Regions from separate parts of the Homo sapiens genome. Here region 1 is linked to region 2. Evidence: fine-mapped expression QTL. A gene starts in region 2. The other region holds a variant in brackets. All regions are shown on one strand. Distances are from middle to middle. Region 1 has its middle 290 kb from the start of EPIC1. Region 2 holds the start of LINC01644 (long intergenic non-protein coding RNA 1644).

The links. PIP is the estimated chance that this variant, and not a neighbour inherited with it, causes the effect.
Region 1: its variant is fine-mapped to the expression of LINC01644 in whole blood (TOPMed, PIP above 0.99).

Annotation. Positions count from the first base shown.
Region 1 is chr22:47,915,708-47,921,086 of GRCh38, reverse strand. No RefSeq gene overlaps it. Among named protein-coding and RNA genes, the nearest start is that of EPIC1, 290 kb to the right of the region's middle. The variant C/T (reference allele first, on the strand shown) is at 2,373.
Region 2 is chr22:47,484,905-47,490,283 of GRCh38, reverse strand. LINC01644 (long intergenic non-protein coding RNA 1644) reads left to right here and starts at 3,173. Exons shown (of 3, transcript NR_109967.1): 1 at 3,173-3,554.

The DNA of each region.
Region 1 (5,379 bases), 430 kb before region 2:
ATTCCAGCCTCTGCCTGGAGACATCACCCCTTCTGATTTATGGGCATTTGGCCATATCTGCTCACAATCATTGTCTTCCTTTTATAGGAGATTTTTAGTTTTATTGGCAGATTTAAATTCAGGTGGACATTTATAGACCCATACAATATAACACTTAATTAAATGATGTCACATGAAAGGACTCATGCTAAGGACGGCCTCTGAGCTGGGCATGGTGAGGCTCGGCTGTTGCAAATCCCCACAAAGTCCAGCCACAGAACAGCAATCCAGGCTCAGGCAGACATGGTCAAGGCTGGCCCTACATCAGGATCTGGAGCTTGGAGCCTCCAGCAGAGGCTGGGAAAGGAAGGGGTGAGCAGGGGCCATGCAGGAAGGGGTGAGAAGGAGTCCAGGTCACCACGGGAAAGGCAGAAGTGAGGAGGATGATGGCCATAACCGCAATGAAGGCAGTGACTTCACCACACAGTAGGCATGCTTAGAGTGGGGGGCCCTGGAGTGTCGACGGGTGGTTAGTGTGCACTGCATGCTGGGCCTTGAGTCCTGCTTTCCAGGACTGACGTGTAATCCTCTTGCCAACCCTACACAGCACAGACGATGATGAGTATTTTGAATTTATAGATGAGGAAACTGAGGTTCAAACAGATTAAGTAATCAGAGTCCAGGTCTGTCTGATCCACAGGCCTGTGCCTTCCACACGGCGCTATCCTGCCTCACGGTGGGAGGGCGTATTCAGTAGGGGCTCAGCATATTCAGGATAAGGGACTCACAGACAAGGATATCAAAGAATGACTGACAGGTGAAATCCAGGCTGGGTCAATTCAGAGAAGGCTCTGGAGGAAGGCTAAGGGGGTGCGACTTAATTCACACTGGTGATGGGGAGCCAGTAAAGGATTCTCAGCCAAATGGAGCAGGTTGGAAACTTCTTAGGGTGATTGGCAGAGGGATTGGAGCCCTTTAGGTGCATGGTCACGTAGGAGAGCCCCATGTTCGGGCAGGTTTGCAACTTCAGCAAGCTTTATTGTATGGGTACATTGTGTGCCCAGGTGGGAATAAGCACACTTCGAACAGAATTCTTGAGCGGGGGTGGGTGATGCTTATCTGGTTGTGCCATTTGGAGCTCTATCTTCTTGTTCCAGGGATCACAGAACAACCATTCAGGTGGATGATGCACGGAGGAATATTTAACTTAGAACATGATGGTGAGTTCAAAACCATTGTTGACAACAGCCTGAATCTGCTCCACCTCTGAGCATGCCACATCCATCAGTGCAGGTCTAGGTACAGACAGCCAAATGTGGACAATGGCCCACAGGTTGATGTCCGGTGCTTTGAGCAAAAGGCAAGGTGAAGACTCTGTGATTGCAGAAACAGGAAGATAGGGCCTTGGGGCTGCTGGGACCTCGATTTCCTCTCTTCATTTTCCTGGGAGGTCTGTGCTGCTCTGGGCACATGCTGCCAGTTCAGACACCACATTCTCAATCCTTACACATGTGCTTGTTCAAGGTTCTTTCAATAAGCAGTCTCTATCGATCCATTTTTGCAAGGTTTGCTCCCTCCTATGTGCTGTAAAATGCTGCTGCCTGTGGTGCTGAGTAACTTGGGGATGGCCACACTGGCTTGCCAGGCTCCTCAGCCCCCACCCCAGGGAACTGGGAGCTGCATCATGAAAGGGTCAAATGCAGAGAGACTGCCCAGCGCCCACGGTGGCCCAGCAGGCTGGGCATGCGTGATCTCCGGGCATACAGCTCGGGCCCCTTGTTGAATAAGCTCTACCTGTAGGAGCCAACAGCCAGCCGTTAGTGCTGCCGTGGAGCCTAATTGAGAATTACCAGGTGGCTGAGGCCCAGACAGGGCTTTGTGCTGGGGTACTCAAGCAGAAATGTTGCTCAGCCCGTGGTGATCCTATTAGGAAGCGGAGAAGTTAATGAATAGTGTGTTCTTTCTTGCTTTCCCTGTCTGCCTTCAGCACGTTGTGTTTATCTACTTATGTATGGAAATCCAGGCCTTCTTAGTAGGCAGAGCAGAGAAGCAGCTTCTTGTCTCACCGAGGAACTGCACAAATCATTCCATTCAGGCAGAAGGCTTGATTGGGCTCTTTGAGTCTAAATAAGATGTCCTTAACCCTTCCTCCACCCAGACCCTTGTTGTTTGAGATGGGCTCTTTTAGGCTGCAAGAAACAAAGAAATGCTCAAAGAACAAAGAAATTCCCAGAGAGAGATTTTTATTATAAGCTACAAGAGACACAAGAGGAGGAAGAACAGCTGCAGAGCCGGCTCCGGAAGCAGGAGCTCGCGAAGGGCACCCAAGGTCGCCAAGGCTCTGGCTGAGCTACCGTGCCGTGTCCTGCGGAGGTGCAGAGGCTGTGGTTTCC[C/T]GTGTGAGTTTCACGTGTGTGACTTTCTCTCATGGCCTCCTCTCTAGCACTCAAGTGCAATCAATCAGACAGGGGGTCTGATGGCTCCCGCCAGTCACCATCTGTGGGGCCAGGCTTCCTCAGGGGGCACTGTGGGTGTGGAGGGAGTCTGGAGCCATGCGACTTCCTGGAATAATCTAGGACATCTGTCAGAACATGGAACTGCTGTTATTTGACAGAAGCAGCAGCCACCACTGTCTGAGCATTGATGGTGCACCAACCACTGGGCTCAGTGTCTGTTGCAGTTATCGAATGTTGCATGATGGATCACCCCAGCACTTAGGGGCCTTTATCGTGTACACAGATTCTATGAGCCATACATTTGGGAAGAGTTTGCTGGGTAGTCCTCGCTTGGGGTCTCTCCTGTCTGCAGTCAGATGTTGGCCAGGCTGTAGTCATCAAAGTTTGATTGAGATGAAGGGTCTACTTCCAAGGCCTCATCCACATGAGTGGCATTTGTTGCCAGCTGTTGGCTGGGGGCCTGGATCCCTCTCTGCACAGAACTGTCCATGGGGCTGCCTGAGGGTCTTCCTGGTGCGCTGGTTCCTTTCTCTCAGAACTAGCAATCCAAGACATACCGGGTGCAAGCTAAAATGACTTGCATGAATTAGGCATTTTCTTTGTATCCCCTGTCCTGATACCAGTGCCTGGCATGTAATGGCACTTCCTTCCTAACTGAAGGAAGAAGAGAAGGAAGGGAGAAAGGAGAGGGAGGGAGGAAAGAGAGGGAGGAGGGAGAGGGAGGTAGGGAGGAAGGAGAAGGAGGAAGGAGAGGGAGGAGAGACAAGGAGGAAGGAGAGGGAAGAAGGAGAGGGAGGAGGGAGAGGCAGTAAAGAGAGGGAGGAGGGGAGGAAGGACAGGGAGGAAGGAGAGAGAAGAGGGAGAGGGACTTAGGGAGGAAGGAGAGGGACTAGGGAGGAAGGAGAGGGAGGGAGGCAGTAAAGGGAGGAAGGAGAGGGAGGGAAGAAGGAAAAATTGTCAAAGTTTGATTGATTTTTCTAAATTAAAGAGTCGCAATACTAAGCTTTTAACCATGCATCAGGACAGATTACAGAGGGCCCTGGGATTGGGCCCATTGCTTTTGGGAAGCAGTGCCTGTTCATGGTTCTGTGCAGGGTGAGTGCCACTGAGTTACACTAATAATCTAAGCCTACCCAGTGGGTTTCTGCTAATGATAAACATCTGAGAACTCACTCAATTTTTCTCCTTCCTCGTTTGCTGACCCTTACGTCAAGGTGTGTGTGAGTGGCCCTGCACCTGAGGATTTCTTTCTTCTGTTATTTTCAATACCAGCTAATTGCATCCTCTCTAAGGCTGCCCCTCCGGCCCAATCCTGCCCCCAGACTGTGACCTCAGCAGGAGCCTTTATACCCTCCCTCCTAACTGCTAAACACTTGGGATTTCCAAGGGCTTGACATAGAATTGGAAGATGTCTAATTAAACTGATTCTTCAGTGTTTGTGAATAAAACAAATGTCCAAGAAGCCATAGAGCATCAGACGCCAAGGACAGGGAAGGGTCCCAAAATCTGGGACACCAGCTGCTCCCCATTTATGATGTGGGTGCTCAGGCTGTGGGGGGGCGGACAGAGGACTGGGAGGAGGAGGAGGTGACCTTGGAAGTTGTTTTTACTAGAGAATCTATAAAATCTGTATGTAAGGAAGCTTCTTTGTTTATGAGCTCATTTTTGTCCCAGGCAATAACTTGTCCTATGTCATGGCGTGATGGTTAGTTCTGAGTGTCAACTTCATTGGATGGAAGGATACAAAGTATTGATCCTGGGTGTGTCTGTGAGGGTGTTGCCAAAGGAGATTAACATTTGAGTCACTGGGCTGGGAAAGGCAGATCCACCCTTAATCTGGGTAGGCATCATCTAATCAGCTGCCAGCATGGCTAGAATATAAACAGGCAGAAATATGTGAAAAGAGAGACTGGCCTAGCCTCCCAGCCTACATCTTTCTCCTGTGCTGGATGCTTCCTGCCCTCGAACATCGGACTCCAAGTTCTTCAGTTTTGGGACTGGGACTGGCTCTCCTTGCTCCTCAGCCTGCAGACAGCCTATTGTAGGACCTTGTGATCATGTGAGTTAATACTTAATAAACTCCCCTTTATATATCTATCTATATATATATAAAATTATTTCTGTATATATACAGAATATATGGAATATGTATATTTCCTTATTTCAGTGAATATATATACAGAATATATGAAATATATATATCCCATCGTATATATATATATCCCATCATATATATATATATATCCCATCATATATATATATATCCCATCATATATATATATCCCATCATATATATATATATATATATATCCCATCATATATATATATCCCATCATATATATATATATATATATCCCATCATATATATATATATATATATATATATATATATATATAGTTCTGTCCCTCTAGAGAATCCTGACTAATACACGTGGTTTACCCCATGTGTTCTGAACATTCCAGAGATCCTGTTTGCTGAATTACCTTTTTCTCATATATCCCTTGTCCTTATACAAATGCCTGTCATGTAATGCCACTCAGAAAGTACCTATGCAAAGGAAGAAAGAGAAGAAGGAAGGAAGGAAGGAAAGAAGGAGGGAAGAAAGGAAGGAAGGAAGATATATACGTATACACACACACATACATATATTCCTGTGATACGGTTATATCGGAATATATGTATCATTCCTATACTATATATATGCACATATCATAGAACCCCCAGAACCCCAAGCATACCACCTACAGGAGGTGGGGAAGGAATTATAACAATTCCAAAATGGGAAATTATGAGAGAAAGCAACATTTACACGACTGTTGTGGCTGGCACATGGGGGCACTGTTGAGAAAATAGCCCAGTTACCAGCATTCTGTTTATAAAGGCCTCAGGAAGGGTTTCTCCTGAGCCACAGCATGGGAAAACTCACACTTGTTCCTGAAGATTTTA
Region 2 (5,379 bases):
TTTTTTTTTTTTTCCAGTAGAGACGGTGTTTCACCATACTGGTCAGGCTGGTCTCGAACTCCTGATCTTAGGTGATCCTCCCACCTCAGCCTCCCAAAGTGCTGGGAATACAGGCATAAGCCACCACGCCCAGCCGGAGTCCCACTTTTCTAAGTGACCAAGGAAATGGAAATTAAACCACAGTGAACAGCATTGTAAACATCCCCAGTTCCAGCCACACCAAGGATTGGTAAGGATGTGCAAATCAACAGAACACGCATGCAGCCAGCGGGGGATAAACTGCCACAACATCTCTGCTAAAAACTCTGCCGATATCCTCAGAGGATGCTCTGCAGGTTAGACGCTCCATTCCCAGGCAGGCATCCTAAAGGAACACGCCATCTTCCACAATGACATCACACAAACGTCCACCACGGCACTGCAAGTGTCAGTCCACAAAGAAATGAGTAGATAACATTCTATGGAGTGATATGAAAAAATACAACGAAACAGTAACAATGAATTTTAGGTCTCAAAAATACTAGTAAAAAAATGTAAAAGCCAATAACATAGAATGCTATATTCGTACATTTTAAAAACTTAGAACAGCATTATGATTGCTAGACATATGTGTGTGTGTGTGTGTGTGTGCGCGTGCGTGCGTACCTATATATCTAGGTAATAAAAATACATGATGTTGATTGCAAAAGAAAAGTGACACAAACTTCATGACAGTGACAGATTCTGGGGAGAGACAGAGAGGGTCAGCCACAGGAGAAGAAACCCTGGAGAGGTCTTCAATTTTTTCTGAAGGCCTGGATTTGTTTTATAAAAGAGAGATAACTAAAGGAAACTTCCAGAATGTTAATAGTTGCTCATGCTAGCTGGTAGGTGCATGGACTTCAGTCATGCTATTTATTCTCTGTTCCTTCTTTTTTGAAAAGAGAGAGAGGAAAGGACTATAAGGCAATACAAACTAAAACAGTTCGATGCTAAGGCAAGAGTATAATAAATAAGGCCACAGGCAGACACTTCCACACATTAGGATTCAGGAGCTGGCACAGTGGCATTTCCATTTAGAGAGGGCCGTAAAGGGCTGCAGAATCGTCCACCTCTGGGGCAGGTCTCCAGCTTGACTCCTACCTCACCTCATTTGCCAATTAAGGAGGTAAGTGCTGTATGGGGTGAAGACAGAAACCACGGCAGGACTGGGGGGAAATGGAAATCGATGTTTTTCTGACCTCGTGACAGGAGGCCGTTCCCATGCAAAACATCCAAGGAAAGCACCATAAAGGGGGCGATTGATGGACTTTACTATATACCACATAAAAATAAAAATGTTATTCTTGCAAAAACACTAGAAACAACATGTAAATGCAAATGATGAATTTTACAGGAGGGAAAGGAAGAGCTGACCTGAGTCCAGGTGGTTAGGAGAGGTGACAGCGTGCTGGCAGTCCTCACAGCCCTCGCTCGCTCTGGGCACCTCCTCTGCCTGGGCTCCCACTTTGGTGACACTTGAGGAGCCCTTCAGCCCACCGCTGCACTGTGGGAGCCCCTTTCTGGGCTGGTCGAGGCCGGAGCCGGCTCCCTCAGCTTGCAGGGAGGTGTGGAGGGAGAGGCGCGAGCGGGAACCCGGGCTGCGCGCGGCCCTTGCGGGCCAGCTGGAGTTCCGGGTGGGCGTGGGCTTGGCGGGCCGCGCACTCGGAGCAGACGGCCAGCCCTGCCGGCCCCGCGCAGTGAGGCGCTTAGCACCCGGGCCAGTGGCTGCGGAGGGTGTACTGGGTCCCCCAGCAGTGCCGGCCCACTGGCGCTGCGCTCCATTTCTCGCCGGGCCTTAGCTGCCTTCCCGCGGGGCAGGGCTCGGGACCTGCAGCCCGCCATGCCTGAGCCTCCCACCCCCTCCATGGGCTCCTGTGCGGCCCAAGCCTCCCCGACGAGCGCCGCCCCCTGCTCCACGGCGCCCAGTCCCATCCACCGCCCAAGGGCTGAGGAGTGCCGGCGCACGGCGCGGGACTAGCAGGCAGCTCCACCTGCAGCCCCGGTGCGGAATCCACTGGATGAAGCCAGCTGGGCTCCTGAGTCTGGTGGGGACTTGCAGAACCTTTATGTCTAGCTAAGGGATTGTAAATGCACCAATCAGCACCCTGTGTCTAGCTCAGGGTTTGTGAATGCACCAGTCCACACTCTGTATCTAGCTATTCTGGTGGGGCCTTGGAGAACCTTTGGGTCTAGCTCAGGGATTGTAAACGCACCAATCAGCGCCCTGTCAAAACAGACCACTCGGGTCTACCAATCAGCAGGATGTGGGTGGGGCCAGATAAGTGAATAAAAGCAGGCTGCCCAAGCTAGCAGCGGCAACCTGCTGGGATCCCTTTTCACGCTGTAGAAGCTTTGTTCTTTTGCTCTTTGCAATAAATGTTGCTATTGCTAACTCTTTGGGTCCACACTGCTTTTATGAGCTGTAACACTTACCGCTAAGGTTTGCAGCTTCACTCCTGAAGCCAGCGAGACCACGAGCCCACCGGGAGGGATGAACAACTCCAGATGCGCCGTCTTAAGAGCTGTAACACTCACCGCGAAGGTCTGTAGCTTCACTCCTGAGCCAGCTAGACCACGAACCCACACAGAAGGAAGAAACTCCGAACACGTCCGAACATCAGAAGGAACAAACTCCAGACGCACCACCTTAAGAGCTGTAACACTCACTGCAAGGGTCCGTGGCTTCGTTCTTGAAGTCAGTGAGACCAAGAACCCACGAATGCAGGACACAGTTAGGTAGAGGGGCCTCTGGACACAAAGGTGGGGCCCCTGGGGTGGAAAAGGGGAGCTCCTGGGGTCACATATAGTTGGCCCTTGCCCGGGCCCAAAGCAGTGCCTTCCTCCTCGCGTCCTGCCCCAGTGCCCTGCTGCAGACCAGTAACTACCCTTCTTCCAAACATTGGCTGATCAGGAACATCTGGCAGATTAACGAAAGGACACAGGAGTGGTGAAATCTCAGAGCAAGTTCCTAGGTGTCAGAGTTCCTAAGCTTTCTCTCCTTAAATGCCCTTTCTGTTGTGCTAGGGGCCTTTACATTCAGAAGTAAGTCTAAACACTAAGATGTGTTTGTGAACTCTAAACTTCCTCTTCCTGGAACACGTAGGTGTGCATTACAACTTCACTCCAGCAGCCACGCCTTCCTTTGGTTATTCATGTAGCCACCTTATCCTGCACAGGTCTGTGGCAGGCCGTGAGACGGTGACCAGAGAAGCAGTCAGCACTCACGGCCCCTGCCCTTTCAGAGTTTACGCTTGCTTGGAAGCCTCCAGAATGGGGATAAGCACAAGACATTTATGCTGGGCTTCATCCAGGAAGCTCTGGTGGAAGGAAGAGAAAGCAGCCCACACAGCAAGGTTCAGGAGAAGATTCCCATGAAGGACAACTGGGGTTCAGCCCCATCCAGCAGATGACACGGAGCCGGCCTCGGAGGTGTCCTCACCGTGGGACACTGGCATCTGAGCTACCTCAGGGCGTAGCCGGCCGATGTTCCCAGCCTCCCCCTGGGCACAGCCAGCCCAGGCCAAGTGGTCTAGGTAAGCAGCCCAGAAAGGGGACACAGGTGAGGTTGGGACAGCACCTTCCAGGGGGTTAGGTGAACAGCAAGGTCAAGAAAACACACAGCAAGCACCATGGTGGGGTGGGGACCGAGGGGTGACAAGGCTGAGGATGGAATCGCAGATGAGTCTTGAGGCATTTGATATCTAGCATTTCCTTTTGATTCTTTTAAAGTTTTCATCTCTCTGCTTACATTTACATGTCATTTACTTTTTTCATTAGAGCCCATAACAATGACTCACAGATATTTTAAGTTCCTTTTTGGATAATTTTCAAATCTTTGTTATATCTGAGCCTTGTTCTGTGTTTTTCTCTTGCCTTTTAATTTTTTGTTAGAAGCCAGACATGATGCATCAGGTAATAAAAACGGAGGCAATTAGGCTTTTGGTGTGAGGTTTTATATTAATCTGGCCAGGAGTTAGACTGCGTGTAATGATTGCTGTCGTTGTATATCCCAGGGGCTTTAGTTTTCTTGTGTTTTTCCCCATTTTCTTCGGGGTTTCCTATGAACTTCTTATATAAGAACCTGTGTCTTACAGCTGTCTGGGTTGTAATCCACTGTTACTATCCTGGAACCCTATTGACGTGGTGGTAAGGGGAAGATTCTGTAATTTTTTTTTTTTTTTTTGGAATGGAGTCCCACTCTGTCGCCAGGCTGGAGTGCAGTGGTGCGATCTTGGCTCAGTGCAATCTCCGACTCCCTGGTTCAAGCGATTCTCCTGCCTCAGCCTCATGAGTAGCTGGGACTACAGGCTCATGCCACCATGCCCAGCTAAGTTCTGTATTTTTAGTAGAGACGGGGTTTCACTGTCTTGGCCAGGATGGTCTCTATCTCTTGACCTTGTGATCTGCCCATCTCGGTCTCCTAAAGTCCTGGGATTACAGGCATGAGCCACCACGCCCGGCCGAAAGGTGAAGACAGAGAATCATGACCAAGACTGGTTTACCTGAGACTAAAACCGCTGGCGCCTGTAACAGCAGGGCCACTTTAAAGCTTTCCCCTTTCTAAAACACTTTTCTCTGATCTTTAAGGCAAAGGAAATTTTGGCGGCTTTTTGTCTCTCCTTACATGAGACAGGAAAGCTACAGGGGGCTTGAGCAGGCCAGTCGCTCTTCCTCCAGGTCAGACAAGGGGAAACTGTTGGAAGTCACGGCTTTGTTAAGGAGAATTTTCTGGTCATCTTTCAAAATGGTTCTTTTCCCCTCCCCTTTCTAAAACACTTTTCTCTGATCTTTATGGCAAGAACCTGCTGGGGTTTCAGCAGGTGAAATACATGAGCCTGTTGCAGTCCCCCTAAGACTGGGCCCCAAGAGGTTTTAACTCTCAGGCTAGTCCACACTCAGCCTCTGGCAATTTGTCAAAATTAGTGTTAAAGTGGCTCTACCAGTTACAGGCACCAGTGGTTTTAGTCTCAGGTAAACTAATCGTGGCTATGATTCTCTGTCTTCACCTTTCTCTACAAACTTCAGAGAGGCTGGTTTGCTCTGTGATCTCAATTAGCTGATGGATCTAGGTAAAGTCATTGAGGTTCAGTCTGTTCAGTGTTTTCCCTGATGTGACGATGAGAGGGGGTGACTTCCGTGCTGTTTCCATATTGGGGCTGAAACAGGAAGTCCCATATATGCTCTCCATATGTGTTGTGCACATATGCTGTTAGATAGATACATTCCTAGGTACCTTAGAGTTTTTTGCTATTATCTTAAGTGTATTCATCATCTCTTATTCCTTCCATTATAGTTTCTCAGTTGTTGTTACTAGAATACAGGAGTGGACTTGAATTTTGTATGTTAATGGAACAGGCT